Regions from separate parts of the Homo sapiens genome. Here regions 2, 3 and 4 are each linked to region 1. Evidence: fine-mapped expression QTL. A gene starts in region 1. Each other region holds a variant in brackets. All regions are shown on one strand. Distances are between the middles of the regions.

Region 1 (8,101 bases):
CCGTTACACATTAATACGCCCGTTTAAATTTGAAGGAGAACAAAGTTAAGACATTTAGGTTGGAGTTTCTGAGTTATTTCTGAGCCACAAACATTCAAAGCAGCTCTATTCCTTGAGGGGACAGAAAGCCAGGCAGTCTGGTACAAAAGAGCCTGGGTTTTTGAGTGTGACGGACCTGGTTCTTACCCAACTCTGCCAGTCCTTAACTGTGTGACCATGGGTGAGCCACTTGCTTTCTCTGGTCCCAGCTTCCTATCCTATCCTAGAGCAGATGATCTGAGGTCCGTGTGACTGTGCTAGCCAACTGTGCTAGTCAGTTCCCTCACCTGCCACATACTAGATGGGGCTGGTGTGAGGATTAAGTGAGAGGATCTGGGCCAGCACAGAGGGCAGCCTGGCACTTAGCGCTCACATGAGAAGGGCTGTGATAAGTGCCACGTCCACCAGCTTAATGTAAGTGAGCACTGGATTCTCTCATGGATCTTGGCGCCTCCTTAGAACCCTGTGACTTAGAGGCAAAATCCAAAGTCTAAGCTGGCTGGGGATGGGATATTCCAGCATTCACCTCCCTGCACCCACTGTCTCCAGTCACACTGCAGCAACTGGGTGTACCTCATCTTTTTAAGGGAGAGGGGAGGAGGATGAGGAAGACCCATTACAGGCCCAAGGACCCCACCCAGCCTGGAACCACAGATTAAATCTCTCCTCATTAAAGCATGTCTCGGCCGGGTGGTGGCTCACACCTCTAATCCCAGCACTTTGGGAGACCAAGACGGGTGGATCATCTGAGGTCAGGAGTTCGAGACCAGCCTGGCCAACATGGTAAAACCCTGTCTCTACTAAAAAAATACAAAAATTGGCCAGGTGTGGTGGTGGGCACCTGTAGTCCCAGCTACTTGGGAGGCTGAGGCAGGAGAATCGCTTGAACTTAGGATGCGGAGGTTTCAGGGCACCGAGATCTTGCCATTGCACTCCAGCCCGGACAACAGAGTGAGACTCTGTCTCAGATAAAATAAAATAAATAAAGCATGTCTCATGTTGGAAGTAGGGGGTGGCAGAGGGTGCAGATTGCAAAAGGGACTGGGATGAAGGTGGTGGGATATAGCTCCCTACTCCCCACCCCCACACCCTCTGTTCAACCTGAACAAGCTCTTCCCCACGCTGATGTTTTAACACCCAGTATCTTCCCGGTTCTTCATCAAGTGCTTTCCTTCTATTTGCATGAATTTCACAACAGTGCTGGGAAACAGCAAAATCAGTACCTGGCATATAGTGGGTGCTTAAGAAAACCCTGCTGTTGAAATACTCTTTTACAGATGGGGAAAACGTGGCTTAGGGAGATTAGATGAGGCACCCTCAGTCTCACTGTTAGAAAAGGGTTCTGTTAAGACTCCAACCTATATTATTCCTTATCTTCAGAGGCAAATTCGAGTTAGATCAGGAGTACAAGCTCTGAAATACAAGGAGTACAAGGCTGAAATCGGTCTTGGTTGATTTCAGCCTTTTCCACTTACTGGCTGTGTGACCTTCTGTTAGTCACTGAACCTCTCTGAGCCTTCCAGTCCTCATCTTTCTCGTCAGGGTTGAAGCACAGATTAGAAACCACGTGTACAAAATGCCCAACATGGAACCGGTGCTCAGTCAACGGCACTGCTGCCCCAGCCCCTCCACAACATTACAGAGCAGGCTGAACTTGCTGTGTGACCTTGGGTAACTCACCTTCCCTCTCTGAGCCTCAGTGTCATCATTTTTAAGATGATTCTATTGGACATGCCCATCTGGTCCCTCAGCATCCCCACTTAAACCACTGGTCTGAGCCTTGGGTCCACCCACACCTGCCACACCCTCCACCAGGGCTAGTCCCACCAAGCCACATACCTTGAAGCCGTCTCGGGTCACCTGGCCCTTCTGAAAGTTCCTCATGAACTCAGCATTCTCTGCCTGGGTGTGCACCTCCTTGGTGGCCTCCTTCAGGGCCTCTGACAAATCCTGGGGCATGCTGAGGAGGAAATGGGAAAGGTGAACACAAAGCTGGCTGGGGGTGGGGTCCTTCCCAACTGCTGAGCCTCCCACCTGTGGGCAGGCCTTCAAGAGACTCCCATCCTCATTCAGGCCACGTTCTCAATCGCTTTAAGATGCAGCCTTGTGGCTGGGCACGGTGGCTCACGCCTGTAATCCCAGCGCTTTGGGAGGCCAAGGCAGGTGGATCACCTGAGGTCAGGAGTTCGAGACCAGCCTGGCAAACATGGTGAAACCCCGTCTCTACTAAAAATACAAAAATTAGCCGGGCATGGTGGCAGGTGCCTGTAATCCCAGCAATTATGCCTGTAATTGCTTGAATCCCGGAGGCAGAGGTTGCAGTGAGCTGAGATCACACCACTGCACTCCAGACTTGGTGACAGAGAGACTCCATCTCAAAAAAAGAAAAAAAAAGAAAAAAAGGGCCAGGCATGGTGGCTCACGCCTGTAATCCTAGCACTTTGGGAGGCTGAGGCGGGCAGATCACCTGAGGCCAGGAGTTTGAGCCCAGCCTGGCCAACATGGTGAAACCCTATCTCTACTAAAAATACAAAAAAAAAAAAAAAAATAGCCGGGCATGGTAGTGGGCGCCTGTAATCCCAACTACTTGGGAGGCTGAGGCAGGAGAATCGCTTGAACCCAGGAGGCAGAGGTTGCAGTGAGCCGAGATCGCGCCACTGCACTCCAGCCTGGGCAACAGAGCAACACTCCATCTCAAAAAAAGAAAAGCAAAAAAGCAAAAAAACAAAAAAACAAAAAACAAAAAACAAATTCAGGCTGGGCATGGTGGCTCTCGCAGCTTTGTAAACACTCTTCAGTCATTAAAACACTAAATAATACAGTCCCCCAAACCAAGGGGGAAATCCTGGTACAGGTAGTTCGCAGTGGAGAGGAGGAGGAGGTACAGCATAACCCAGGAAGAAGCAGCAGCCCCATGAACCGGCATCTCCAAGTTTGTAATTGCTTTGATTGGCTTTTAGACCCAATATTTAATTCAGTTATTTTGTTAAAGTTCCAGATGCAAATCTCATGACCCCCTATCATGTTATGCTCATCATGAAGGCGTCAGGGTTAAAAAGCCTGAGAAAGTCTGCTTTAGTCAAAGAAAAAGTCTTTCTGGGAGTATTTCTGTCATGGGTCCGTATCCCTGCCTCCCCACAGAATTGTCATTTTTCCCTTTTCTCCTGCCCTGCTTCCCTGTTCTACAACACAGCTGGTCAAAGTCTCAGGAGAAATGGCACATGTCTGTAAGTCCCAGCTACTCTGGAGGCTGAGGTGGGAGGATGCTTAAGCCCAGGAGTTAAAAAAAAAAATACTAACAAATTATTGAAAGAAGGGAATGAGTGAGACCTGGAGGTGGGCAGACCAAGGTTCAAGGCCCAGTTCTGACACCAGCTAACTGAGCACTCTTGGGCATGTCGCCTCCCTGAACTGGGCTATCTGTGAGACATGGAACACCGCAGCCAGGGTGATGTCTGGCTCAGGTCCTCCGTAGCTAGTGAGGGACAGATGCCACCAAGAGAACCAAGCATGCTCCCCCAGGCTGGCAGAGCCCCAGAGATCTAGATTCAGCAGAGAGCAACTCCAAACACACCTCGAAAGTAGGATTAAAAAAAAAATTGGCTACCTCAAAGACTGGATACTCTAGGGACACTCCCATCTTGGTCACCAACCGCATACCAGGGTGCCAGGCATGTAAATTACCGTTCCTCCCTCCAACTACCCTACGGGCACAGGCAGGATCAGAACCCCGCACCTCCTGACTCCAGAGCCCAAGTTTCTGGCTCCTGGGCTCTGTCGCTGTGTGGCAGTGTCCCGGGGTGGGGCTAGGACGCAAGCAGGGTTGGGAGAGAAAGGCGCCCGTCCCGCGTCCCGCGCCCCGCGCTTGCCTGTCGGGTTGCGGACGCTCCATCCGGCCGGTGCTGGGCTCGTTCGTGCTGGCTCCGCGGGCGGCGGCTGCGCTGAGGACGCTCGAGAGGAGGCAGGCGTTGACTGCCGGAGCCGCGGCCGGTCACATTTATGCTCGGCGGGTCACGTGGGCCAGGCGGAACAGCTGATGCCCACTTTCTGGCCGGGCGTTGCAACACCCGCAGGGGCCCGCGCCCAGCCCGCCCCGGGCCAGTGTGGGGTGGAGAGGAGCAGTCATATGACCCTTGGGAAACAAAGTCTGGCCATAGGACTTTTAGAGAAAACACACACACACACACACACACACACACATACACACACACACACACACACACACACACACAAAACCTTTAAGGAAATCTGAGAAGCTGCAGGCTCTGGGTGTGATTTTGCTCCTTCCAGAGCCCCCCCTTCTGCTCCCTGTCCCCTTGGGACTTGATGCACCCCAGGCGTCCCAGAAGGTTCCAGAAAGCTGGGAGGCAGCGCTGCTCAGAGCAATAGCCTGGTGGGCAACATCAGGAACTTAGCAACCCCAGGCTCTGCTGTCTCCAGCTCCCTAAAATGTCACCTGCTGGAATCCTCTGCTGACTGCTTGCCTCCTCACACCCTCTTTAAATGTACATTTAGGATCTGTTTTTTGAGTTCCTGTCAAAAAACAGAGACTCTAGTATTTTCATGGTTCATCCCTACAACTGACCTGTGAGGGTAGATCGCTTCTATTTTACAGATGGGGAAACCGAGGCTCAGAGGGGTGCAGTGGTGTCACACATAAAGCAGGATGCCAGTGTCCAAACCCAGGGAGGAGACTAAGTCCCCGCCTGCCTCCTCCACACTCTGGCAGCACCTGGTATCCGCCTGGACTGGGACACCTGTCATACAAACTGCTTCCCTGCTGGAATGCGTGGGACACTCTTCCAGGCACATTCAGGTCTGACTTATACTCAGTGCCTGCTCAGGGCCCAGAGCAGAGCTGGCCCTTGCTGATCGCCTATTGAATCAATTCTGCATGAGGTGGACTCCTTAGAACTCGGGGGAAATAGGGTCACTGGGTGAACCCAGAGGACAAAACGAATGGACCAGATGATTCATACAGTCCTTTCCCAATACTGTGATTCTCATTCTAAGATTTTTTTTTTAAGATGGCTTTCAGGCCTGGCATGGTAGCTCACACCTGTAGTCCCAGTACTTTGGGAGGTTGAGGTGGGAAGAGCGCTTTGAGCCCAGTCGAGGTGGGAAGATTGCTTTGAGTTCGAGACTGGCCTGGGCAACATAGGGAGACCCTGTCTCTACAAAATATAAAATAAATTAGCTGGGCATGGTGGCACATGCCTGTGGTCCCAGCTACTTGGGAGGCTGAGGCTGGAGGTTCACTTGAGCCTGGGATGTAGAGGCTGGAGTGAGCTGTGACCACGCTACTGTATTCTAACCTGGGCAACAGAACAAGACGCTGTCCCTCAAAAAAAAAAAAAAACAAAAAAAAAAAAAAAAAACTTCCTGGAATTCAGCCTAGGGCCACTACAGCCCAGAGGCACTTCTGAGATTGTATTGGAAAGGATCATCCTCCCAAGGGTGAGCTAAGGGGCCTTGAAAAAAATTCCCCTTCTTCCTCTGAAGGTTCCCCGAAAACCAACCGACAAAAGTCAGGTTAAGAGGAGAAAAGACATACAAAAATGTATTGTAATGGGGTAATCACGGAAGAATGGTGACCCTGTAACCCAGTGGAGTACAGAGGCTACCCAGCCTTTTTTATAGGGGAGAAGGGAGATAGGGAATGCAGACAATTCTTTTGAAAGACAGTAAATCATTAGCAAGAAGGAATGGCCCTGGAGGTGAAAGGCCGACTTTAAGGGAAGGTGGAGGTGGAGCCGCACAGGGACAAAGGTTGTCCTAGGCAGATAAAGTCCCCCAGGTAATCTCTTGGCACTGTCCTCAGAAGAACAGGTAAATCTGTCTGGGTCTGGTGATGACTCCCAGTCTCTTTCTCTCTCCAGTGGTTGATCTTTCCTGGATATTTGATGAGATTACTAGAAAAAGGGCTTAACACTGGCCGGGCGCGGTGGCTCACACCTGTAATCCCAGCACTTTGGGAGGCTGAGGCAGGAGAATCGCTTGAACCCGGGAGGAGGAGGAGGTTGCAGTGAGCCAAGATAGTGCCACTGCACTCCAGCCTGGGTGACAAGAGCGAGACTCTGTCTCAAAGGAAAAAAAGACTTAACACAATTGCATTTCTTTTGTAAAGAAGTGTTCTTGGTCAGATAAGGAAATTCCAGAGAGCGTCTCTCCCTGTGCTTGTCGGGGGAACAAGACAAGCTTACAGGGACCTTGACTCTGAGGCAGCTCCTAAGGCCTCTCATCATGTCAAAGCACCAGTTGTCCTGGTATCACTTTCTGAGCCCCAACAGTGGCATGTAAAGCACAAAGGTGGAGACCTTGCCTACTACTTTGCTTTGTAAATTCCCAGTTCCTGGAATAGTGCCTGGTAGGTCACAGTTAATACTGAATGCATGCCTGAATGAATAGATGCTTCAAGGTCTCTTTCTGGGAAAAAATAATAATATTGTTAGGCTGTAATATTGCTGGGCTGATAGAATGGGCTGGAACCAAGCCACAATTCCAAACTGTCATTCTAACCAGCCTTTATTGAGAATTTACTATGTGCAGAGACTTCACGCGCGTGATTGCAGCCCATCCTGACAACAGCCTTGCAAGCTATTTTCATCTCTATTTTGCCCACATGAGCACTGAGGGACAAAGAGGATAAGTCATTTTCCCAAGTCATACAGTTAATGATGGAAGAGCCAGGATTCAAACTACAGCACTTTGAAGCCAGTCCCCACAGTCCTGACCACCACACTCCAACCCTTCTCACAGAGGGTCCAGGAGTTTAGGGGAGATGAGTTTGCGTGTATAGATCCAGAGTCTGTCCATTCAGCGACCCTAGAGGGTAAAACTCATGAGATCTGAACCCTTTTTATTTAACACAGGGAAGCAGGGACCCCAAGAGCAGGAGGGACTTGGCCAGGCTATGCCCCCCATTGGAAAGAGAACCTCCAGTGACCCAGGGTTCCTGGCTGCCGGTCTGGGCTTGCTTTCTTTTCTAACTGTTCTCTGGGAGCCCCAGACTTCGTTAGAACAGCCCCCCACACAGTGGGTTGCTGGGGTGCAAGAGGCCAGGCCAGAGTTGTTCTGGTCCTCTAGGCTGTCCCAGGGCTGAATTTGTGGCCCTTTCGCATGCTGATTCAGCCTCCTGACTTCCCCTTCTTTTTAGTCAAGCAACAGGATGATCCAAATGCTATTCTCTCTCCTCCTGCTGGGCCAAATAAAAGCCCCTTAAAGGTGTCCACATTCTAATCACCAGAACCTGTGAATAGGTTACCTTTTTGCTACCTTACATAGCAAAAGGATCTTGCAGAAGTGATTAAGTCAAGGATGTTGAGATGGGGAATTATCTTGGATTATCCTCTTGGGCCTTATAAGAGGGAGGCTGGATGGTTGCACATACAGAAGGTGACAAAGAAAGCAGAGGACAGAGAGAGAGACTGGGAGATGCCATGCTGCTAGCTTTGAAGATGGAGGATGAGGCTGGGCACGGTGGCTCATACCTATAATCCCAGCACTTTGGGAGGCTGAGGTGGGCTGATCACCTGAGGTCAGGAGTTCAAGACCAGCCTGACCAACATGGTGAAACCCCCATCTCTACTAAAAATACAATAATTATCCAGGCAAAAAAAGTAGAGAACTTTCTCCTGCTGGAGGCAGAAGAGATGAGGCAGATGCAGAAGTCAGAGAGATGTGAAGCATAAGAAGGCCTCGGTGGATTGCAACATTAAATCAGGGGCAGATTGAGGTGGACTTCACAGGGTGGGAGCTGGGGGACCCAGCAGGGGAAAGGCACAGACTTAGAAAAGACAAACAAGAGGCTTCTGCCGTTTTCTAGAAGTTTCACTTCCTCCTGCCTACCATTAAAGCTGCCCTTTCACCTCCCACCTAAAGAGAAGCTGAGGAGGCACTGGTGACTCAGCAAAATCTAGCAAAATCCGCCTTCCCTTTGTTTCCGCGAGTCCCCCCTCCCAAACATGACGCAGCAGAAATGCAGCTGCACGAGGGGATGAGGAAATCGCGACTCAGCATTCCCAAGGCGCCTTCAGGAAACAGAAGTGGTTTGGGCAGCAGG
Region 2 (8,101 bases), 28 kb after region 1:
TGCTTGAACCCGGGAAGTGGAGGTTGCAGTGAGCCGAGATCACACCACTGCACTCCAGCCTGGGTGACAGAGCAAGACTCCCTCTAAAAAAATAATAATAAATAAAATAAATAAATAAAAATAAAAATTAGCTGGGCGTGGTGGTATGTGCCTGTAGTCCTAGGTACTCAGGAGGCTGGGTGGGAGGACCGCTTGAGCAGGGGGTAGGGGAGAGGGGACGGGGGAAGCCGAGGTTGCAGTGAGCTGCAATCATGCCGCGGCATTCCAATCTGGGCAACAGAGCACGACCCCATTTCTTTAAAAAAAAAAATGAAATGTATTTGGCAGCATGTGAAGAAGTCACTGAGGGAAGGGCAGAGTCCTCCCCTAACTTCACGTCCAGTAAAAGCCCAAAGTCCTCCTGAAGGTTCCGGCAATCCCTGGTACTTGTGTTTTCACCACTTCCCCCACCCTGCTGTCCCAGCTTCTTCCTATTTCTGCTCTGAACTGTGCTGACTCAGACATGAAACTTGCTCCTTCCCCAGTTCCCCAAAACCCTACTCTTTTTTTATTTTTTTTGAGACGGAGTCTCACTCTGTCGCCCAGGCTGGGGTGCAATGGCGCCATCTCTGCTCACTGCAACTCCACCTCCCGGGTTTGGGCAATTCTCTTGTCTCAGCCTCCCAAGTAGCTGGGATTACATGCGCCCGCCTCCACGTCTGGCTAATTTTTTGTATTTTTAGTAGAGATGAGGTTTCACCATGTTGGCCAGGCTAGTCTCGAACTCCTGACCTCAGGTGATCCATCCGTCTCTGCCGCCCAAAGTGCTGGGATTACAGGGGTGAGTCACCATGCCTGGCCCAAAACCCTACTCTTGACAAATACTTATGAGCAGAGCATTTACTAAAGATCTCAGGGCCACAGAGAGGGGTGACATTAGACAGAACCTAGAGAACAATCTAATACAGCATCTGTTCTTCCGAATCTTTTTTGGCTACTCCTCTCCCTTCCCTCCCTCTACCCCAGTAGTTGACCTCTGATCCTCCCCCAACTCTTTGCCTGGGGCCCAGTAGCTCACCCTCTCCTGCCTTCTCTCTCTTCCCTTTCCCCGTTCTTGTCTCTGTGCTCTCAGGCCCTCTTCCAGATGGCCCGGTAGGATTCACCTCCCTCTTAAGAGCAGAGCAGTCCAGCTGTCTCCAGCTCCCTCCCCAAGCTTGCAGATCCAAAGTCCCTGTGCACAAACATGGACATGAGAGAGCTTCCTTTTCTCCAACCATTGTCTTCAACCATGCCCAGCCTCCACCAGGGTCCTTTGTGACATCTTGGGTGGTTTTGCTAACTTTCTTGTCATTTTCAAGTACAAAAAAGTCCAATCTTGGCGCAGTGGCTCACACATGTAATCCCAGCACTTTGGGAGGCCGAGGTGGGTGGATTGCTTGAGCTCAGGAGTTTCAGACCAGCCTGGCCAACATGATGAAACCCTATCTCTGCTACAAACACAAAAATTAGCCAGACATAGTGGCACACGCCTGTAATCCCAGCTACTTGGGTGGCTGAGGCAGGAGAATCACTTGAACCCAGGAGGCAGAGGCTGCAGTGAGCCGAAATAGCGCCACTACACTCCAGCGTGGGTGACAGAATGAGATCCCATCTCAAAAAAAAAAAAAAAAGTCCAGTCTTGAAGTTTAATCTCACATCGAATTTGATATCCCCTCCTCCCTCCCCTTAGCACTTCAGGAGGGTATGGCCAGCTCCTTCACTCTCCCTTCCTTGCCTCTGTCTCCTGGGTCCCTGTGTTGCAGAGTTGAGGTGAGGGGATGGGAGGGCAGAGCCATGTTTACGTGGGGACGGTGCAGAAGCCAGGGTGGCCGTCGATGGAGATGCCCAATGCGTGTGAAGGCCAAGGCTGGCAGGAGCCGTGGGGGAGCCCCTGGCCAGCAGTGAGCATGGCTATCTTCAGCTCCTGCCCTTTTGGGTTGGGGTTCTGCTCCAAACAGTGGGTGGGCCCAGAGGGGCTGGGCAAACAGAGGCTGTGCTGTTAGTTCCCTCAGATGAGGCTGCCCAGGCAACTGGAGCACTTTTGGATGGAACGAGATACTGCATTGGTGTATTAAAAGTCTGATTACTGCCGGGCGCAGTGCCTCGCACCTGTAATCCCAGCACTTTGGGAGGTCGAGGTGGGTGGATCACTTGAGGTCAGGAGCTCGAGACCAGCCTAGCCAACATGGTGAGACCCCATCTCTACTAAAAATACAAAAATTAGCCAGGCGTGGTGGCATGTGTCTGTAATCCCAGCTACTTGGGAGGCTGAGGCAGGAGAATCACTTGAACCCGGGAGGCGGAGGTTGCAGTAAGCCGATATTGCGCCACTGCACTCCAGCCTGGGGGACACAGCGGGACTCTGTCTCAAAAAAAAAAAAAAAAAAAAGTCTTGATTACTGATGCCCAAAAGGGAAAAATATTAACAACTCAATGCATTGTGGAATGTTTTGTGGCCAAAAATCAAAACAAACAAAACTCTTCTAAATCCATAGTCTTGGGGAGAGACCATGATAGAAGATTTCCTTGGGGAGAGAAGGTTTTAGAACCCACTGGCCTAGTTGGTCTCTGAGGCTGAAAGTTCTGTGGGAGCCCAGAGCACGGTGCAGGGTGCTGGGGAGGGCCTTCTGAAGACAGACTTCCCAGCTGTCCTCCATTCGCCCACCTCCTGCGGGGCAGGTGCTATGGAGGACCGGGATTCTAGTTTCAGTTCTTTTACAAATTTGCTGTGTGGCCTTGGGCAAGTCTCTGCACTGGTCTGGGCCTGAGAAGGGATCCTGAGGGAGGGCCCCATCTCAGCAGCCAGCCTTCTCCCTGCAGGGGTCCAGTGGCCTCTGCAGCCTAAGTGGCTTGCAGGGCTCAGGGCTACTCATACAGATAATGTACACAGTGACTTTTCTAGCCCCAAGGCAGACCTAGGCGCAGCCCCAGGCCCAGAATAGAGTGCACTTCATCCTGATCCCCCAGGGACCTTTTCTCCCCAGAAAAGAGGACTCAATGTTTCCACTTGCCGGCTGTGTGGCTTTGGATTAGCTAGTTGACTTTTCTGACCTCACCCCCTCCTTTGTAAAATGAAGATTCTTTTTTTTTTTTTTAATTTGTATATTTTTTGAGATGGAGTCTCACTCTTGTTGCCCAGGCTGGAGTACAGTGGCGCGATTTCGGCTCACTGCAGCCTCCGCCTCCCGGGTTCAAGCGATTCTTCTGCCTCAGCCTCCCTGGTAGCTGGGATTACAGACACCCACAACCACGCCTGGCTAATTTTTGCATTTTTAGTAGAGACAGGGTTTCGCCATGTTAGCCAGGCTGGTCTTGAACTCCTGACCTCGGGTGATCCACCCACCTCGGCCTCCCAAAGTGCTGCGATTACAGGCGTGAGCCACTGCGCCTGGCTGAAGATTCATTTTTAACAGAGCTTCCAAGGGCTCCAGTGAGGGCAGGGTCCTGTGGGGAGCATGGGCAGCACCCCCATTCCTCAGTTCACCCACTTGCTTTTCCCTTTCCTAGGGGTACCCCAGGGCAGGTGCAAGGATGTCCCCGGCTTGGGTTTCGCTTCCCTCCTGCCCCTAGGCGGTCAGCTTCCTGTGCGGGCATTCAGCAGGGTGTGTGGGTGGCCGCCTCCACCCATTGGTCCCACTGAAGCTTGGGCAGTTGTTTCCCTATCGCCGCTGGTCCTGGAGGGGAGATAAACCCGGGGTCCTGCTTCCCTCTCTTGTAGATATTTGAGTTTCTTTCCTCGTATTTCTTTCCTTTTTGGAAGGAGGATTATGGAATTTGGGGGTTGATAGGGCAGAAAAGCAGAGTGCAAAGGGGCCTTACGCTCTCTTAAATCAAGCCGATTAACAGATGGGGAAACTGAGGCCCAGAGAGAGGAGAAGGCTTGCTCCAAATCAAACAGGAAGTCAGTGTCTGTGCACCGCTGGAAGCTCGGTTGGCTGACTCCTGGGCCGTGCTTGGACCTGACACAGGGGGCCCCAGGAGTCCCCACCCTCCACCCTGCACTGACTTCCCTGTGCTTGTGCGTGGGTGGGGGCTGCTTCCTCCCCGGGCAGGCTGGGCTGGCACACAGAGCCTCCTGGGCCCCTGCACCAGGTAGGGAGGCAGTACACTGGTCAGGGCAGGCCCCTCCCCTCCCTGGGCCTCCACTTCCCTGTCTGCACATTTCTCACCCGCCTCAAGAGGTCCAAGTGCCCTGCCAACCTGACTCTGACCCACTGGGGATTTGGGGCCCTGGTCAGCTTGGGTTCCTTCCCTCTGCTGGCCAGCCTGGTCCACGGTGCACAGAGGGTGCAGGGCCAGCCTGCAGCAGGGGCAGGAAGACGTCACGGGAGTCCTGAGTCAGAGGCAAGGGGTGAGGATTCGGCCCGGCGAAGCTGCTTCCTCCAGTCTCGCCCTGTACCAGGGTGGGTGGAAGTGAAACCTGCCAGCTTACCCGCTTGGGTCTGCTCTGAAAAAACAAGCGGACATGGGGACCAGGAGAGCAGCCCCAGCCCAGCTCCCAGCACCTGTATCTCCCTCCACTCTGCCGGCACCCCTGCTCGCTCCTGGTCCCATGGCTAATCCTTGGATCTAAGGCTAGGCTGCCCTAGGATGAATCTAGCCACCCTCAAACTCCCACTAGGGCAGGGGGCAGGGGGCAGGGAGTGGAGGCGGGTGTTTCATGTGGCAGCCCCTCTGAAGACACTGTGGCCACCTGCGAAAGAGCAGTGTGTCTGGGAGAATGGACCCAGGGCCTAGAGGGCAGCAGAGGGCAATACAGGGCTGCTTCGTCCCTTTGAATTCATACGTTGAATCTCTAATCCCTAGTATATCAGAATGCGATTGTATTTGGAGGTAGGACCTTTAAAGAAGTGCCAGGCACTGTGGCTCACACCTGTAATCCCAGCACTTTGGGAGGCC[G/A]AGGCGGGTGAATCACACGAGGTTGGGAGTTCGAGACCAGCCTGGCCAACATGGAGAAAACCCGTCTCTACTAAAAATACAAAATTAGCCAGGTGTGATGGCGCATGCCTGTAATCTCAGCTACTCAGGAGGCTGAGGCAGGATAATTGCTTGAACTGGGAGGCGGAGGTTGCAGTAAGCCGAGATCGCGCCATTGCACTCCAGCCTGGGCAACAAGAGTGAAACTCTGTCTCAAAAAAAAAAAAAAAAAAAGTGATTAAGGTACAATAGGTACAATAGATCATTAGGTGGACTCTAATCCTTGATGAATGCTGTCCTTATAAAAATGGGACTTTTGAACATAGAGAGATGCAGAGGGGATATGATGTGAGGCCCCAGGGAGAAGATGACCATATACAGCCACGGAGGGGCCGGAAGGAACCAACTGAACAGATGGAGTCCACGTCCTTGATGTTGAACTTCAGCCTCTAGAACTGTGAGAAAGAAGATTTCTGTGTCTAGGGGCCTGTCTGTGGGGCAGGGTGGTGGCGGTCCACGCGGAGAGGGTGGGAGGCACTGGCAGGACGGGGCAGTGGTGGCAACAGAGATTGGTTTCTGCGGGGATGGGGGGAGAGAAGGAATGAAGGACGGCGGGAAGCAGGTTTCTCACTGCTGGAGAAGGGAATTAGACATAGGGGAAGGGCGGAAAAGAGAAGGAATCTGTGGTAGAGCTGGAGTTACTGGGCGAGCTCATGATTTGTCTACACGTGGAGACAGAAACGGCAATGCACACGGATCTGAGCGTGTCGGCTGAGAAGGCGCGGGAGCAGGGGGCCCCAGCAACGGCACACCGGGGCTCTGTAAAGAGAGGGAGGGGACCGGGCTCACTTTTGCCCACCCAAAGCTCCCGTAGCTGAGCTCCCAGCTTGTCTCACCAAATCCTCCCCACAACCCTGTGAATCGGGACGTTTAAGAAGATCTGAGGCTTCCAGAGATGAAATCCCTTGTGTAGTCCCACAGCAGAGCCCGGCGGTGAAGCCAGACCCTCGGACTCCAGCTCCCAGCCCCATCACCATTGTTACTCAGCCCCACCAGTCAGAGGGCGTGTGCGCGTGTGTGTGTGCACGCGCGCGCCTGTGAGCTCGCGCGGGGCAGGAGCGGGCAGGAGCCGGCAGCACCCGCCCCTTTCTCCCGGTGTCTGTACCCGGGAGGGGCTGATTTGGCCGCGGTGGACTCCACCCTAGTGCCCCGGCAAGCCCTGTACATGCAGTGCTACTGCCATCTCGTGGTCGCCTTGAAACACTGACCCTGAGCAGGGGCCGTAGACCGTGCTCAGGACTCAGAACTGGGCCTACCTCCAGCCACCTTGGAGCGGGCAAAGGCTTCCTAAAGCGCCTACCGAGAGCCCGCAGAGCCCAATCCAGGAACGCCAGGGGGACCCTGCCGTGTTGCCAGGATCAAGACAGCCCTGACCCTCTTAGGGTTAGCAGCCCAGACCAGGAGGAAAGACAGACACAGTCCTTTGGTTCTCTCCCAGTGGGGAGTAGGGACAGACGTTATTCTGGAGCTGGGAAGGCAATACCAGAGGCAGAGCAGGGGTCCCTAGAATTACTGAGGAGTCTGAGGGGCAGGGCTCTGAGCCAGGTGTCTGGAGCAGAGGCCATTCTGGAAGGGAGCAGGGAACCATCCGTGACAATAACAACATGTACAGAGCATTGTCTACATGGCAGGTGCTGAGTTACTTGTTGGCTCAGTCAACCCTAACAACCCTATGAGGCAACGAGTGTTATCTGCCCATTTTACCAGTGAGAAAACAGAAGCACAGAAAGGTTAAGTAATTTGCCTAAGGTCACACAGCCCAGAAGTGGCCGGTCTGGGAGGTGGGTACTGACACTAGGGCAGGAGGTGGAGGGGTCGGTGTCCAGGCCCAGGGTGGGATCGTGGTGGCCCAGGGGAGCCAGGAGGGAGAGGGCTTGGTGGAGGCTCTGCAAAAGGCTTCCTCAAAGGCAGGCCTGGGGCTGCCCCCCAGGCGCCCTTTCCCCTGCCCACCAGCCCCTCCCAGCTCCACTCAACCCCTCCCCTCCATGCCCCCGGCCCAGCGCCTTCCGATGTAGCTGGGCCCAGCGGGAGCGGCGGCACCTCGTTAATCCTGCCCTGTGGTGCCAGGTGGAGGCCCTGCTCCTACCCAAGGCTCCCACCAGACAGCTGGCCCTCATTTTCTTGGGGCCAAGACTTCCTGCAGCTGTAAAGTGATCCCGCCCAGGCCTGCAGCCTCAGACAGAGCCTGCTGCCAGGGAACCCAGCCTGACTGCACTGATGAATTCCCGCCAGCGCCCCCCCCCCCAGCCCCCATGCAGCCCCAGCAGCCTTCTCTCTGAAGGAGGCCTTCAGGCAGCCTGGAACTGTTCCAGCCAGCCAAGCCGAGACCTCTGCAGGGGCCACCTCCTGCCTGGCATTCAAGGCCCTTCATGGCCCAGCCCACCCCATCTTACCTCAGCAGCCTTAGGCCGTCCTCACAGAGAGCCTCCTGGCCCTGGGCGTCCCGTCCCATCTTCTTCTTTTCACAGCGTGAAACAATGATTGAGTTTATGTCTGTCTTTCTCGTCCCTTTCCCTCCCACGTGACCCCACAGGGCTGGCACCTGGCCGCTTCACTTCTGTCTGGCGGGCACCTAGCGCTATGCTGTGTGCAGCTGGCTCCCAGGGGATGCACCCACAGGGAGGAATGAACAACCTGGCAGTTTTCACCCTTAGCACCTGAGGCCCTCCCAGCCCTGGGGGCCTTCTGTGGAAGTTTCCTTGGGTTTCCCAGCTAACACAGGGGAGAGGAGGCCTTGGCTTTGATCCTTGTAAAATCACAACTCCCCTCTAAGAGGTCCCCAGTTAAGTAGGGAGAGAATGAGGGAAGCAGGCAGTGGGGTGTGGGTGGGGCAGGCAGGTGAGGCAGCAGTGAGGAAGGTTGGGGGTCCCAGTCTTCCATTACTTAGTGTATGACCAGGCAAGTCCCTTCCTCCCTCAGCCTCAGTTTCCCCATTTGTAACTGGTGGCCAACACCATTGACCCCCTGGGGCTGTTGTGAGGTACTGAAAGGGCTGGGCCAGGGTAGGGCACCTGGCAGGAGCTCACAGATGCCCTGGATGTGGCAGAGGGAGCTTGGCCTGGACCATGAGCATCCTGATGGCGGCAGGGCCTCCCCCTCCCCTGCC
Region 3 (8,101 bases), 58 kb after region 1:
CACGTTCCCACTCACCATCTCCAGCTCACTGCGCAGCTTCCCAATCTGAAACACACAGTTGATCGTGGTGAGAGAAGCCAGGGTTCTGGGGCCCATGTTACTCACAGCGACAGAACCCAGTACCACCAACCCTGGGTGCAGCACCAGGGAGCCGACCTCCCAGCAGCCTCTCTAGGCAGCCTCCCTCCTGGCTCCCAAAGTGACAGCTCTGCACTAGAGGCCTGCCCCACCCCTTCTACAGACCCCTCACAGAGGCGCTACCAACCGTTACCATCTCCACACCGGAATGAGCCACCACGTGTGGCTGGAAGACTCCAGCATCTCCTGGGTCTAACACAGCAGCTAACAAGGCCCTGGAGGGTGGCTCCCCACAAGGCGGGGAGGGACGCTGCAGGCCCTCTCTCTCTCTCCCACTAGAGGACTGGGATTCTGCCCTCTCTCTCTCCTCCTAGAGGACTGGGATTCCGCCCTCTCTCCTAGAAGACTGGGATCCCCCCCTCTCTCTCCTCCTAGAGGACTGGGATCCCACCCTCTCTCCTCCTAGAGGACTGGGATCCCGCCGTCTCTCTCCTCCTAGAGGACTGGGATCCCGCCCTCTCTCCTCCTAGAGGACTGGGATTCCGTCCTCTCTCTCTCCTCCTAGAGGACTGGGATTCCACCCTCTCTCTCCTCCTAGTGGACTGGGCTTCTGCCCTCTTTCTCCTCCTAGTGGACTGGGATTTTGTCCTGTTTCTGGTCTATTTTGGTGTCCCAGGCTCATCTAAGGATAGTCCTTGCCCTGTACCCCACCTTGAATATGAAACTCAGATTTAGCACTTGTTCCAAGGGATGTGGGCAGGTTTTCAATGGTCAAAGGGTTCCAAGGAGTTGGGCTTGGGGAAACATTTTCAATAAAGCTGCAGTCTCCTCAAAGAGGTTAGCTTGTGAAAGGCCATTGGTATAAGGATCTTATGCTGTGGGACCTTGTAGGGTGTTTAATGCCCTCATGCACACTGGGAATGCCTGGGAAAAGATCAGTCTGAAAGCTTCTAAGATTTATTTGACTGAAGAACCTTTTTATGTTTTGAGAAATGCTGGTACATTCTAAATCATGTGGCTGAGTTATAGTTGATTTCAGAGTGTCACTATATACATTCATGATTGTGACAGCAGCTACCATTTATAGACTACCTAATAAGTGCCAAGCATTGAACATATATTGCTAACTTAATTTTTTACCATGGTAGACATCAATATCCCTGCTTTTATAGATGAAGAAATGGAGTGTAGAGACTAGTAGTATATCCACTATGGTTCACTGACACCTTCCAAAACCTGCAAAATGTTTGATCTATTTGGCTTACTTAATGAACACTCTTGGTATGAGTGAGTGGAAAAACTACTGATCACAAACCCCATGTATCCAAATCAGATGGGACTTAATTACAGAGGAGTCTGGGAGTAACATCACTGCACACCTGATGTCTTAACATGTCCCAAGAGACAAAAGGGGACTCTCGAATTAAACAAAGATTAGTTTTGTTTAGCAAGCACCTTCTTGCATTGGAAGTAATTAGCGTCTTAATCCACACAGATGCTAGACTTCAGAAAATTGGTTAAAATCATAACTGAGTTAGACAATCACAAGGTGGTTTTACAATTTTTTACACACCTTTAACCCACTCAGAAAAAAAAAGTGCAGCTCGCTGTCAGCACTCATTTAATTTTACATAAACATGCTCTTTGAGGCTGAAGTAAACCTGACTGATTTTCAACATGAAAATAAAACATAAAAACTGTTCTTGGAGTTATTTCTAAACAGAACTTGTCTCCAATCCTAACGTAACAGAAATGTATATGAGGTTACATTAGGATTAGAGACAAGAGTATTCTTGGGGCAAACGGGCAGTGCGTTAATAATTTTGTCCAGTTAGCAAAATTTTCTAGTAATATCTGTAACTCTGAGGGGTGATTTCATAACTTGCTATGAGAAAACAAATCATGGAAGTTTCTCTTCAAATAGGTTAGGGTGAGAATGAGTTCAAATGATACAAAAAGTGGGCAGTGGGGACGCTTATTGGGAAAGTTAAGCTTCACTTTTCTTTCCATCACACATCCGTGTCTAACTCACCAGCACACTCAGCAGCTCCACCTTTACGCTCCGCGGATGTGATGGGCCTGATGTGTGTACAACACCTTTAACGTGGGTGTCTCCACAGTGTGCAGGCCTCTGCCCCCACCCCAGCAGCCAAAAGTCTAGAATGACAAGCCCCCAGCTCTACGAGCTGGTCATGGCTGTAGAAGTCACTCAGCAGATACAGCAGCCATGGCACTCCACAAGCAGCTCATGGCCCAGTGGGCCATGAGGAGGAAGGAAGTGACATGCCCAGGGTGCCACCTGCTCTGAGGTGGGTAATCCTTCAAAGCTAGTCAGAGGGCTGGGAAAACCTGTCCCCTAGAATCTCATACTAAGCCTCAAACCTTCTTGGCTGGGTGTGGTGGCTCATGCCTGTAATCCCAGCACTTTAGGAGGCCAAGACGAGTAGATCACTTGAGCTCAGGAGTTCGAGACTAGCCTGGCCAACATGATGAAACTCCATCTCTACTAAAAATACAAAAAATTAGCTGGGCATGGTGGCTCATGCCTGTAGTCCCAGCTACTCAGGAGGCTGAGGCAGGAGAATTGCTTGAACCTGGGAGAGAGAGGTTGCAGTGAGCCTAGATGGTGCCACTGCACTCCAGCCTGGGTGACAGAGCAAGACTGTTTCAGAACAAACAAAAAAGCTTCAGACCTTCTTGAGACTTCATGGGAAGCAGCATGGTACAATGTACATATGTTTTTTATTTTTTGCACAGATGTTTGAAAACTTTTCAGGCAGAACCTCTCTTCAAATGAAGCCTTTTTTTTTTTTTTTTTTTTTTTTGAAACAGGTCTCTCTATGTTGCCCAGCCTGGTCTCAAACTCCTGGGCTCAAGCCATCCTCCTGCCTGAACCTTTGAGAAGCTAAGATCACAGACGCACGTGACCATGCCCAGCTCAAATGAAAGCTGTGAGTGTGTAAGAAACCACACAGGTGGAGCTGGCCTGAAGGGGCTGCGTACAGGACACCTCTCCATGGTGCTGTTGGAGGGCCCCGCAGAAAACACAGGTTGGAAAATGGCCAAGGTACAGGGCAGTGCCTGCCAGGAGTCAGACAGACGTGAGCTTGGATCCCAACTGTCTCTGATGACTGTGTGCTCTGGGCAAGTGAATGGACCTCTCTGAGTCTCATCGCTCAAACAGGAAGAACCACACATACCCTGTGGGCTGCTGTGAGGAAGAAGTGGAGGCTCCGTGGATGGTAAATTCTGACAGGGGGCCCTCCCTGACGTGTGTGGCCCACCTGCCTGGACCTGACGGTTCTGACCCCAGGCTCGTTTACCTGTTCCGGGGTTGGTGCTATGGGCGTGTCACCGGAGAGTATGGGCGGGGCGGGCAGAGGGGCAGCATGCTGGCCAGAGTCCTCTTGCTGGCTGGAGTCAGTGCCCACAGAATCCTGTCCTGATTGTGTCTCTGAGTTGAACACGGTCTAGTGGGAGGAAAACAGGATCAGTGAGGGCTCCTGGGAACATCAAGAGCCCAGGAAGTCAGGGGCCAGCCTGGTGATGTCTCTGGGGATGAGTCCTGCCTCCCTTCCCTTGGTTCCCGGTACGGCAGTTCTCTCACCCTCTGGGGTGTGTGGATGGGTGACAGCATGTCCAGGTCAGTCATGGGGAACTCCAGGCCTTTCCTCCGCAGGTCCTCATAGATGGTGACCACACCTGTCAGATCGGGCGAGCTGCGGAACGCGTCAGCCCAGGACTGAGAGGGGACAAGGGGACACAGCCGGTAACCACAGCTCACCTGTGAGCCTGCCCACCTGGCACTCAGACAGAGAACAGACATTCTTTCCCTGCTTTTTTTTTTTTTTTAACTACATCTGCCCTGCCCACTCCACAGCAAAGCACGCAGTTGGCAAGCCTCCCTCCCCACAGAACATCCCACCAGC[C/T]GACAACCGAGACGCCCCGAAATGAGAAGCGGAGCCTGGGACAAACACGATGGCCTCGACTCTCCACTGGGCAGGAAGCTCCTGCACTGACAGCTCTTCCTGGCCGTGCCCTGCCCTGTCCTGGCACTCACCTGGATGAGGTTGAGCACTTTGTCATGCACGATGGTGGGTGGGTTGTTCTTGGGCAGGATGGTCCTCACCAGCACACTCTCCACGAAGTCCTGGCTGGCCACCAGCACGTGGAAGCGGTGCCCGCAGTTCTTGACACAGGTTTCTAAGACCTGGAGGGCCGAGAGGTGCCGTCGAGCACCTTGGTCAGAGGAGAGGAGGTGCTCAGAACCCCCACCCTCGTGGCTCCTCCTGTGTCCCAGAGAGGAGGCCCGGGAGAGGAGATGGGACTTCCTGGAGTGAGACCCTTGAATGTGGAGGACTGGGACAATGCCAGGACTGGGGGACTTGTTTACTGGAGGGCACGGCCTAGGGTGGGCAGAGGTATGGTGTGTGGGCTGGACTTCCTTCCCTGACTGGCGTCAGTGCACGCAGAATCCCAATGCTGTCTCTGAGCTAAACATGGTCTAGAGAGAAGGGGCTCTCCAAGAGGAAATCAAGGAGCATCTGAGATGTCAATCGACTGGTGAGCCTGTGGCCCAGGGAAAAGGCACTGAACTTCCCTCCCCACTCTCCACTTCCCACTGCAGGAATTGCCTTTGCTTTTTGCTTAAGCCAATTCACCTGGATATAAATGCTGCTTGTGGAGGAGGGTGGGACAGCATTTATATCTTCCCCAGCCAAACCCATGCTGACGGCTAGGAGGCCCACGTGTGTCTGGCCGCCCTGAGATCTGGGCTGGTTCAGTGGTGTGGGCAAGACTGTTCTCAGCCACTGGTATTTATTTTACATTCATTTGCCAGAGCACCAAAGTGCCGAGCAGCACCCAACTCAGTCAGCCGGCCTCCCTGCCCCCGCGGAGGCCTGGGTTTACTGAGCTTCAATGTCACCCACAGGTCCTTTGGCCCAGGCTCTCCCTGCCAGTGGTTCTGGAGTGATGTAAGCGTCTGTTCCCATGCTGGGGGATTGGGGAGAACCTTTCCAAATGGCCTCTTGCCATTCTGCATCCGCCTGCAGTGTAGACAGGACAGTGCGTTGCCTACAGACCTTTCCAGCTCTCAAATGAGGAGCTCAGAGGAGGCTGGGAGTCCTGCTGGGTCTGAGGGGAGGTGACTTTCAGTGGACCGTAGTCCTGCCACAGGACAGACAGATGGGGCACTCACTGTGAGAGCCAGCATCACCTCGTGGAAGTTCTTATTCCCCACGATTCTCTTCTTTACTGCTCGGAGGGCATCTTTGGGACTAAGGAGGACAAGAAAAAGGGTGGGCTTAGGAATAGAGCCCCCTTACCTAACACCAGAGACCCTGGAGAGTTGGAACAGTTCTTATTGGCCCATCCTCCCTGTGCCCCACCTGTTTTGTGTATCCAGCCAGGTTCTGATCACATCAGAATCTTCCTAGCCCATTGCTTAGCAGGGACTCACAACCTGTGGCCCCTGGACCTCCAGCAGCAGAGTCACTTTGAGAAAAGATGAGAGCGTTTTGTTAAAAGTGCAGAACCTGGCCGGGCGCGGTGGCTCATGCCTGTAATCCCAGGACTTTGGGAGGCTGAGGCAGGTGGATCACTTGAGGCCAGGAGTTCAAGACCAGCCTGGCCAACATGGTGAAACCCTGTCTCTACTAAAAATACAAAAATTTGCCGGGCGTGGTGGTATGACCCTGTAATCCCAGCTACTTGGGAGGTTGAGGCGGGAGAATCGCTTGAACCCAGGAGGCAGAGGTTGCAGTGAGCCGAGATTACGCCACTGTACTCCAGCCTGGGCAACAGAGTGAGAGCCGAGATTGCGCCACTGTACTCCAGCCTGGGCGACAGAGTGAGACCCTGTCTCAAAAAAACAAAGGACATTCAAAAAAAAAAAGCAGAACCCTAGGTCCCCACCCTAGACCACCTGAACCAAATTCTCAGGGAGTGGGGCCCCTGAATCTGAATGCTTCTCATGCTCCCCAAGGGTTTCTTATGCATGCTCAAGTTTAAGAACAAATAACCTGGAGGCATAATGTTTTCATTACAAAAATAGAGATGGGGTCTTGCTATGTTGCCCAGGCTGGTCTCAAACTCCTGGGCTCAAATGATTCTCCCACCTCGGCCTCCCAATATGTTGTGATTACAGGCATGAGTCCCTGAGCCCAGCTAGCATAGTGTTCTGATGCCCCGTCCTGGCCAGCTGCTCTATCTGTCCATTTACCCTTCCATTCAAGTTTTTTTTTTTTTTCCTTCTGAGACAGAGTCTCACTCTGTCGCCCAGGCTGGAGTGCAGTGGTGCAATCACAGCTCGCTGTAGCCCGGAACTCCTGGGCTCAAGTGATCCTCCTGCCTCAGCCTCCCAAAACGCTGAGACTACCAGTGTGAGCCACCATGTCTGGCCCATTCAACTCTTATTAAGCACCCAATATGTATGTAGCACCATGCTAGGTGCTGGGGACACAGTGGCAAACAAGACCATATGGCCCTGCCTCCTCCCCACCTTGCGGGGAGATCCAAAGAAGAGCAAGGAATAAGCAGGTCCTGGAAAAAGAGCAGAGGTGAGGATGGGGGTGGTCAGAAAAGACCTCCGAGGGGGTGGTCTTGTAGTTGGGCCTTGAAAGATGGGAAGGACCACCTGGGGGGAGTGGGGGCAGAGCAGTTTGGGTCAAGGTCAGAGCCTGGACCAAGGTCTTGGGTGCAGAGGAGCTTGATGCCTTGGAGGAACTAAGAGGAGGCCACACTGAGTGTGGGGGAGGTCGGGGAGGGCTGAAGAAGCCTAGGGGTCACGGTGTTGGGAGGCCCCTGGAAGCTGGGGTGCCAGCCTGCTCTCCCTGTCCCCTCTGTGATTCCCACCATCCTCCACCCTCGGCCCTATACAGGTATACTCAGTGCTGCCCTGACTGCTCTTGTCTAAAAGCCTTTGTGCAGGGCCCCCACTTGCACCCTGAAGGCTCCTGACCTCCACATCCATGAGGTGAAGCCTCAGCTAAAATCCACCCCTTCCACAACACTTTCCCAGGTCCTCCAGTCTCCCTGGCCTGTTCTGCCATGCCACATTGAACTGGGGGCCCACCCTGGGTAGAGAAGAAGCTTGCTAGAGGGCAGGGATGGTGTTCTCTTTGGACAGCTTCCCTTCCTAGAGCCCATCACACTACTGAAGCACAAGTAACATTTCTCAGCCTGGCCAGTGGCCACTGGGACCCATCCGGCTGTCTGCCTGGCTGTCAGTGCTGACCCCATCCAGGACTAAGGCAGGAGAGCCTGGAACCCTGGCACTGGTTCTCAGCAGGAGTGAAGGCAGAGGCAAGGCTTCCTAGGGACAGAGCCTGCCTGGGGGCTAGAGCTATGGAGGCGGTCAGGCCTGCGGTGGAAGGGACACGGTGGGGAAAGGGATGGTGGCCCACCAAGGGGGGTCCTGGCCCAGAAGCCTGAGAGCAGTTTCCAACCCTTGCCTCCCTGGGCAGCCCCTCGCCCGTCCCTGGCTCCTGGTCTTGGCCTGGCCACTGACCCACGGGCTACTTCAGCGCTTTATAGTGACTTCTTTCCACCTCTTCTAGGGTGGCCTAGACACAAGGGAATCAGAATCATTCCCTGGCATGTTCCGCCATGCGCCACTGACCTGGGGGCCCACCCTGGGAGAGAAGAAGCCTCCTAGAGCGCAGGGACAGCGTCCTTGTTGGACGCCTTCTCTCCCTAGAGGGAAGCACTGGGAATCGGAAGTTCTGGCCTTGCCACTGCTGTGGGCCCATGATGTCCGGTACTCTGCTGGGAGCACAAAGTGTATGACAAGGAGGCCACAACCCAGTGGGGGAGACACTTTAGCAACGAGGCTAAGTTTAGGTGCCATGCTTGGTGAGGTCAAGGGTCATGCCTGCCTTTGATCACTGCTGGGTCCCTAGTGCCTCCTGTGTTGCCTGGAACACACAAAGTGCTCAAATAAATAGCAATGCACCTGACCGACGCCGAGCCTGTTCCTCCCATGTTTATAAGGGACATGGGGGCTTGCTGTCCCCAAGGATAC
Region 4 (8,101 bases), 85 kb before region 1:
TGATGCAGGGAAGTCTAACAACCCTACCCTCAGGCACAAGCATGTATCTTGTTGGGCTCCTCGAGTAGAGGAAGGATGAGGGACATGTCCCAGGGAAGGCCCCCAGGTCAGCCTCACTGGCTTCTCCAGGAGGTCAAGGGCTGGCAGAGGCCCTGCCCATCCCTCTGCCTTTACACTGACCTCCCCGCTCTGTCTTCTGCTGCTGTCACCCATGCCTTGGGCAGACCACACAGCCAGCCTGGCTACCCTGAGTCCATTCCCCTGACTTCACCTGAACAGCGGACAGCAGGAGTTGAACCTCTGAGCCTTGGATTCAGGACCGTCTGGGTTCAACTTCTGTCTCCCCCAGCTGTAGACAGGTGACCCTGGGGAGTTATTTATTCTCTCTAAACCTCAGTTTGTTTATCTGTAAAATGTGGGTAATGACACTTTACTATACAGACTTCTCGAGAGAATCAAATAAGACAAAAATATAATTGACAGAGCACCATGCTAGAGCAGAAAACTCTATAAACATCACTCTTATTTCTATTGTTGAAATTGTCCAGCAATGGTATCTGTGGAACATAAGGCTCAGAGAGGGGACATGAATTGCCCAGCACCATACAGCCAGTTGATGGCACAGCTGGAATCAGAATGTGAGTTTTTTTTCCCACTTAATAATAATAACAATAAAAATAACATTAATGGGGGCCATGTGCGGTGGCTCATGCCTGTAATCCCAGCACTTTGGGAGGCCAAGGTGGGTGGATCACCTGAGGTCAGGAGTTTGAGACCAGCCTGGCCAACATGGTGAAATCCCATCTCTACTAAAAATACAAAAATTAGCCCAGCATGATGGCGGGTGCCTGTAATCCCAGCTACTCGGGAGGCTGAGTCTGGAGAACTGCTTGAGTCTGAGAGGCAGAGGTTGCAGTGAGCCAAGATTGCGCCACTGCACTCCAGCCTGGGCGACAAAGCCAAACTCTGTCTCAAAAACAAAACAAAACAAATCATGCTGGGCGTGGTGGCTCACGCTTGTAATCCCAGCACTCTGGGAAACTGAGGTGGGTGGAGCATGAGGTCAGGAGATGGAGACCATCCTGGCTAACATGGTGAAACTCCATCTCTACTAAAAATACAAAAAATTAGCCGGGCATGGTGGCAGGCACCTGTAATTCCAGCTACTCGGGAGGCTGAGGCAGGAGAATAGCTTGAACCTGGAAGGCAGAGGTTGCAGTGAGCCAAGATTGTGCCACTGCACTCTAGCCTGGGTGACAAAGTGAGACTGTGTCTCAAAAAAAAAAAAAAAAAAAAAAAACACCACACACACACAAACAAAAACAAAACAACCGAAACAAAATAACATTAATGCCAGCTAACACTTACCAAGGGACATTCTACGTGTTTTAAGTGTGTTTTTTCATTTAATCCTTACGACTCTCTGAGATAGGTATTAGTCTTATTATAGCCATTTCATATATGAGAAAACTGAGGCACACTAAATAATTTTCCCAAAGCCACAGAGCCTCAGTGGTAAGCCCAGGATTTGAACCCAGGGAGTTCTGGCCCCAGAGTCCAGCAAGTGCTTGTTGCACATGCAACCAATTCACTAGTACATTTCCCCTGAAGACGCAAAGATGACTCTGGCAGTGTTCAGGCTCCAGACAGTGGTCTCAGACCAACCTAGCAGAGCTCATCAAAGCACACTGTGATGAGGAGGTGTCTTATCATCTCCTGCCTTCCTCATGAAAAAAAAAAAAAATGGAGTTCGCTGGGCCGTTCCAGGGCCCAGTGTCAGGCAGGACACTGGTTTCCTGAGCCTGGCATTGTGGCCCAGCACCCCAGGGCCATGCCTGGCTCTGCAGTTTCGTTTGGTGCCTACATGGAAGCTGGCCCAGGCCATGGCTCCTGTGAAAGCTGCAGGCCCGGGCATTCCCCGCAGGCAGCTGGAGAGCTGGCTGTCCAAGACAAAGGCAGCCTCTAAAGGTCAGAAGCTGCTCTGGGGCCTGGGATCTTTGCTTCCTGCTCCCAGCACAGCCTGTCCTCAGCCTGCAGGCTCCTCCTCCCAGTGCTCTCAGCCAGAAGGAAGGAGCAGGCAGATGGCACAGCCCCAGCCCTGCCTACAGCCCCCAGACGCGGAGCCCGACCCTGCCCTCCTTCTGCCAGGGGAAGGAAGTCCACTTCTTAAGCCTGGCATCCAGGGATGCTGAGGGGCTGAGATTAGAGAATTTCGGGGGGGTGATGGAACTGCTCCGTGTCTTGATTGTGGCAGTGTTTGCGTGACTTTGTTTTTCAAAACTTGTAAAACTGTGCACTGAAAAGAGGCAAATCACACCTCAAAAAAACCTAAAAGTCATATTTATAAATATAAATAAGCATAAGACTTGAAAAAAAGGAGATGGGGAAACTCTCCAGGACGTTGTTCTGGGCGGATTTCTTGAAAAATACCTCACAAGCACAGGCAACCAAAGCAAAAATGGACAAATGGGATCCCATCAAGTTAAAAAGCTTCTGCACAGCAAAGGAAACAATCAGCAAGGCGAAGAGACAGCCCACAGAAGGGGAGAAAATATTTGCAAACTATACATCTGACAAGGGATTAATAATCGAATAGATAAGGAACTCAAACAACCCTATAGGAAAAATCCTAATAACCCAGTTTTAAAATGGGCAAAAGGCTGGGCACAGTGGCTCACGCCTGTAATCCTAGCACTTTGGGAGGCCAAGGCGGGCAGAACACAAGGGCAGGAGATAGAGGCCACCCTGGCCAACACGGTGAAACCCTGTCTCTCCTAAAAATACAAAAATTAGCTGGGCATGGTGGCGCACGCCTGTAATCCCAGCTACTTGGGAGGCTGAGGCAGGAGAGTCGCTTGAACCAGGGAGTTGGAGGTTGCAGTGAGCCGAGATCGTGCCACTGCACTCCAGCCTGGCGACAGAGGGAGACTCCGTCTCAAAAAAAAAAAAAAAAAAAAAGAATGAAATCCTGTCATTTGCAACAACATGGATGAAACTGGAGGTCATTATGTTAAGTGAAGCAAGCCGGGCACAGAAAGACGAACTTCACATGTTCTCACTTATTTGTGGGAGCTAAAAATTAAAACAATTGAACCATGGAGATAGAGAGTAGAATGATGGTTATACGCTGGGAAGGGTAGTTGGGGGGCAGGGGAAAGTAGGGATGGTTAATGGGTCCAAAAATATAGTAGAAAGAATGAATAAGGCCAGGCATGGTGGCTCACACCTATAATAGCAACACTTTGGGAGGCTGAGGCAGGAGGAATTTGTGAACCCAGGAGTTCAACACCAGCCTGGGAAACATAGTAAGACCCTGTCTCTGTAAAAAATAAACAAAATTAGCCGGACATGGTGGTGCACACCTATAGTCCCAGCTACTTGGGAGGCTGAAGTGGGAGGATTGCTTGGGCCCAGGAGGTCAAGGCTGCAGTGAGCCATGATCACAGCACTGTACTCCAGCCTACGTGACAGAACAAGACCCTGTCTCAGAAAAAAAGGAATGAATAAGATCTAGTATTTGATAGCACAGCAGGGTAATTATAGCCAATAATAATTTAATTGTACATTTCAAAATAACTAACAGTATAATTGGGTTGTTTGTAACACAAAGGATAAATGCTTGAGGTAATGGATATCTCATCTACCCAGTAAATATATACACCTACTATGTACCCATAAAAATTTTTTAATTTTTTTCAATAAATAATTTAAAAAGAAAGAGCGGCCAGATGGATGGCTCATGCCTGTAATCCCAGCACTTTGGGAAGCCGAGGCAGGAGGATCACTTGAGCCCAGAAGTTTGAGACCAGCCTGGGAAACATAGCAAGAACTTGTCCCTATAAAAATAAATATATTTTTAAATTAGCCAGGCATGACTTTGGGAGGCTGAGATGGATGGATCACTTGAGGTTGGGAGTTTGAGACCAGCCTGGCCAACACAGTGAAACCTCATCTCTACAAAAAATACAAAAATTAACCTGGCATGGTGGTGTGCGCCTGTAATCCTCAGCTACTTGGGAGGCTGAGGCAGAAGAATCACTTGAACCCGGGAGGTGGAGGTTGCAGTGAGCTGAGATCGCGCCACTGCACTCCAGCCTGGACATCAGAGCGAGACTCCATCTCAAAAACAAACAAACAAAAAAACTAGCCAGATGTGGTGGCACATGTCTGTAGGCCCAGCTACTGGAATCTGTAGTCCTAGGATCACTTGAGCCCAGGAGTTCAAGGTCGCAGTGAGCTACGATGGTCCCACTGCACTCTACCCTGGGCAACAGAGCAAGACCTTGTCTCAAATAAATAAATAAAAAT[A/C]AAAGGAGAAAGACCTAACACACTGAGGAGGCCGAGAGGAGCCCTGGCCACCTCGGCACTCATAGGCCCAGAAGGTCAAACACCAGCCCTGGGCTCCTGGCCACAGCCCTGCAGTGCTACTCAGGACCGCAGGGAGGACACTGAACCATAGGAATTTGAACACCTGAAGCCAGTGTTCAAAGAGGCAGCAAGACCAGGCCCCAGAATGCACGGATGCTGGCCCCAGCCACGGCCCCTGTGAAAGCTGCAGGCCCTGGCATTCACCCCAGGCAGCTGGGGAGCAGGCTTCCCAGGACAGCCTGTCCACTGTCGATTGCCTCATCCAACCCAGCCACGCATCCAAATACTCCTAGGACCCAGTCCCTTTGCCCTGCAACCAGACATCCCTCTCATCTGCTTGGGACTCTCCACCTCACTGAGCCTTTGTCATGTGTGAGGTCCCAGCTGGGTTTCTTTTCATCCCAGATAAGAGGAAAGTGGGGTCTAGAAAGGCTGAGTACCTGCCCACAGTCCCCCAGCTGATACAGAAATAAGACCGAGGCCAAGCTCCTGACCGCCATTATCCCATTAATCTTCACATCAACCTTGACGGAAACACTGTGAGTGGTCTTATTTTATAGATGAGAAAAATGACACACAGAGAGGGTAAGTTGCCCAAAGTCACACGGTAGTAAAAGGCAGAGTTGGGACTCAAACCCAGGAGACTGGCTCCAGGATACCACTCTCAGCCACTATCCTCTTATCCCCCTGAAGAGGGCAAGCTGCCACTACCTCATGCCACTGCCTAAAGAGTGTGCTTGGAGACTTTTACTGTCCTTGGTGGTCCACTGTTACCCCAGGCACCATTCTGCTAATAGTTGAGTTGGCAGAGTGGAGTAGTTGAGGCAGTCCGTGGAAGAGTGTGACTCTCCAGTGTAACCCCAGCTACAAGGGCCTCGCTTGGTTTTGCCACAGCTGAGTGAGTTTAGGAAGTTACTTCACAGCCCTGTGCCTCCAGGGGCCACACCTGTTTAAGGGATGCTGGCAGCAGCCCTACCTCTAATTAGTCATAGGTATCCAGGGCACATAACTGCACCTGGTACAGGGCAAACCTCCCCCGCAGAAGTGTTAACCAGTGTTGTCCTCACTGGCATCATCATTACTGTGTGAGGGTGGGAACAAAATACAAAACAATATGGTCTCCCTACTGCCAGAATCCAAAATAATGATCACTCAACTTCCAGGTCTCAGCAATAGCTTCCTGCCACACATGGGGCAGCTGCTCTTGTCTTGTCAACTTGATCCCAACCAAGGGACAGGGCCTCACAGCTAGACCCTGGGCCTTGCCTTCTGCAATGACCATCAAGCATCTTTCTTGGAGCCCCTTCTTTGTCCTCTGTCTGTCCCTCTATTTCCTCTGCTGTTGAAAGGGTTGGGGCAGGAGAGCACTGGAAGATTTCAGACACTGCAGGTAGGGAAGGGGAGATGGTGAGACCAGCACCGAGATCTGGTCCCAGGGTGGACTTCCCCAAAGACAGCCAGACTTGCTGTTCTACCACTTGGTGTGCTAAAATAGAGTCTGTCTTCTTCTTGACCTAGAGCACTATTACAAAAGGCTACCTTCACCGGAGCAGGACACTGTCCTATAGCATTTTGTTTAAAGCAATTATTTAATTGTTGTCTTCCAGATGGATGAGAAGAGGGCCTGTGTTTCTCTTATTCATGGCTGTGCCTTCAGGGCCTGGCACACAGCAAAAGTGAGGATAGATGAATGGATGGATGGATGAGTAAGTAAGTAGATGAATGGGTGGATGAATGGATGGGTGGATGAGCAGATGAATGGATGGATGGATGGCTGGATGGATGAGTGGATGAATGGGTAGATGGATGGATGAGTGAATGGATGGGTGGATGGGTGGATGGATAGATAACTGAGTGGGCAAATGGATAGATGGGTGGATGGGTGGATGGATGGATGAATGGATGAGTGGATGAATGGGTAGATGGATGGATGAGTGAATGGATAGGTGGATGGGTGGGTGGATAGATAACTGAGTGGGAAAATGGATAGATAGGTGGATGGGTGGATGGATGGATGGATGGATGGTGGGTGGATGGGTGGGTAGATGGATGGATGGATGGATGGATAGTGGGTGGATGGGTGGGTAGATAGATGGATGAGTGGATGGGTGGATGGATGAATCATGGGTGGATGGGTGGGTAGATCGATGGATGGATGGTGGGTGGATGGATGGATGGATGGATGGTGGGTCGATGGGTGGGTAGATGGATGGATGGTGGGTGGATGGATGGATGGATGGATGGATAGGGTAAATGATGCCCTGGAAAGGCTGGGTCTGGGGCCTCAGGGGGACCACTTGCCTTCTCTCCACCTGCTGCTCAGAACTGCAGACTTGTGACATCACCTCTACAAATCCTCTGTTGGAGGCCTTGGTTCTTATGATCCGTGGGCTAGTCCCTGAGCCCCTCAAGCAGGGCCAGAGTGGCAAACTAAAAAACCAGATCTGACAAAGGATAAAGATAGAAGGAAGGAGAAACTGGGGGTAGGGGTTGGTGGTGGGGGCAGGACAGCCCAGAACAAAGGGCTGGGAAGGCAGAGAAAGTAGTAGGTGGAGGAGAAGGGAAGGAGGGCAGGAGAGGGAGGCAAAACAGAAGCTGAAGGCAGACAGGGGGACTTGATCAAAGGAGAGGCAAATAGGGCAATCACCCGCTCCCTGTGTCCCTCTCAGGACTTTAATGAGCCTGCGCGTGGGTAAGAGCTCCACTTGGCTGACTTTCAAAGCCCTTCCTCTCCATTAGCACATCTCAGTCTCACAACATCTTTGTGGGTCGGTTTTATTATTATCCTCCCACCAGCATGGCCCCGAGGAAGGAAGACGTCAGAAGCAGCTGGCCTGGGCTCAGATTCCAGGCCTCACTCCTGGCTGGGGGACCCTGGCAGTTGTGTGGCCCCTGAGTCTCATCTTCCTTGCCTGTGAAATGGGGGGTGACAATGATGCCGTCTGGCAGGAATGTCACGAGAAGCAAACAAGAGCATGTGAGAGGGTCTGGTACCCAGGCAGGGCTGCCCATCCTCTGTCCTCCCTTCTTCCTCACTGAGCTTGGGTGCAGGCAGATGTGTGTGTGCCTGCACATCCGAACTGCCAGGAGGCTTCGGCGTGGCCCAGTGCCTGGGCCTGCCCCCACAGACTCTGGTTCCATTGATGTGGAGTAGGGCCTTGATATCAGGACTTTGTAAAACTCCCCAGGAGATTCTCGTGTGCAGCCAGAATTGGGAGGCTCTGGTCTAAGTATGTACACGTGGGTAAGACAGGAACTCTACCAGGAGACCCAAAGAACTAGTCCCATGGACGGTCTCTGGGGAGAGCAGCCAGTGGCCAGGGCCCGAGGCGGGCAGTGTGGGAAGGAGGAAGATGTTTCTCTGGATACCCTTGGGCCTTGTGAATTGAATTTTGTTCCATCTGCACGTATGACCTATCCAAAGAGTAAATTTGAATGTTTATAATCAGAAGCAAATGGGGCCGGGTACAGTGGCTCATGCTTGTAATCCCAGTACTTTGGGAGGCCAAGGCGGGTGGATCACTTGAGGTCAAGAGTTCGAGACCAGCCTGGCCAACATGGCAAAACCCCATCTCTAGTAAAAAATACAAAAATTAGCCGAGTGTGGTGGCACATGCCTGTAGTCCCCAGTACTCGGGAGGCTGAGGCAGGAGAATCACTTGAATCCAGGAGGTGGAGGCTGCAGTGAGCCGAGATCTCACCACTGCACTCCAGCCTGGGTGATACAGCGAGA

Which allele goes with the higher level. Alleles are on the strand shown, and positions count from the first base shown. SD is a standard deviation of normalised expression in the study named. Not every link is listed here.
As copies of A replace G in region 2, the expression in unexposed skin of the gene that starts at base 4,009 in region 1 goes up (moderate effect, 0.43 SD a copy in GTEx).

The links. PIP is the estimated chance that this variant, and not a neighbour inherited with it, causes the effect.
Region 2: its variant is fine-mapped to the expression of HMOX1 in unexposed skin (GTEx, PIP above 0.99). The same link has a PIP of 0.9 or more in sun-exposed skin.
Region 3: its variant is fine-mapped to the expression of HMOX1 in whole blood (INTERVAL, PIP above 0.99).
Region 4: its variant is fine-mapped to the expression of HMOX1 in whole blood (INTERVAL, PIP above 0.99).

Annotation. Positions count from the first base shown.
Region 1 is chr22:35,377,004-35,385,104 of GRCh38, reverse strand. It overlaps HMOX1 (heme oxygenase 1), which reads right to left and starts at 4,009. Exons shown (of 5, transcript NM_002133.3): 1 at 3,909-4,009; 2 at 1,879-1,999. The coding sequence starts at 3,931. RefSeq lists silencers at 3,739-3,908, 4,209-4,288 and enhancers at 7,523-7,762, 7,724-8,101, 7,369-8,101.
Region 2 is chr22:35,348,991-35,357,091 of GRCh38, reverse strand. No RefSeq gene overlaps it. Among named protein-coding and RNA genes, the nearest start is that of MIR6069, 16 kb to the right of the region's middle. RefSeq lists enhancers at 3,915-3,974, 4,475-4,614, 3,918-4,793, 5,925-6,044, 5,611-6,119 and 2 more and a silencer at 6,145-6,264. The variant G/A (reference allele first, on the strand shown) is at 4,918.
Region 3 is chr22:35,319,215-35,327,315 of GRCh38, reverse strand. TOM1 (target of myb1 membrane trafficking protein) reads right to left here. Exons shown (of 15, transcript NM_005488.3): 3 at 5,279-5,357; 4 at 4,139-4,288; 5 at 3,686-3,820; 6 at 3,402-3,548; 7 at 1-45. Among named protein-coding and RNA genes, the nearest start is that of MIR3909, 12 kb to the left of the region's middle. RefSeq lists enhancers at 3,187-4,386, 7,720-8,101. The variant C/T (reference allele first, on the strand shown) is at 4,008.
Region 4 is chr22:35,461,825-35,469,925 of GRCh38, reverse strand. No RefSeq gene overlaps it. Among named protein-coding and RNA genes, the nearest start is that of MCM5, 66 kb to the right of the region's middle. The variant A/C (reference allele first, on the strand shown) is at 4,309.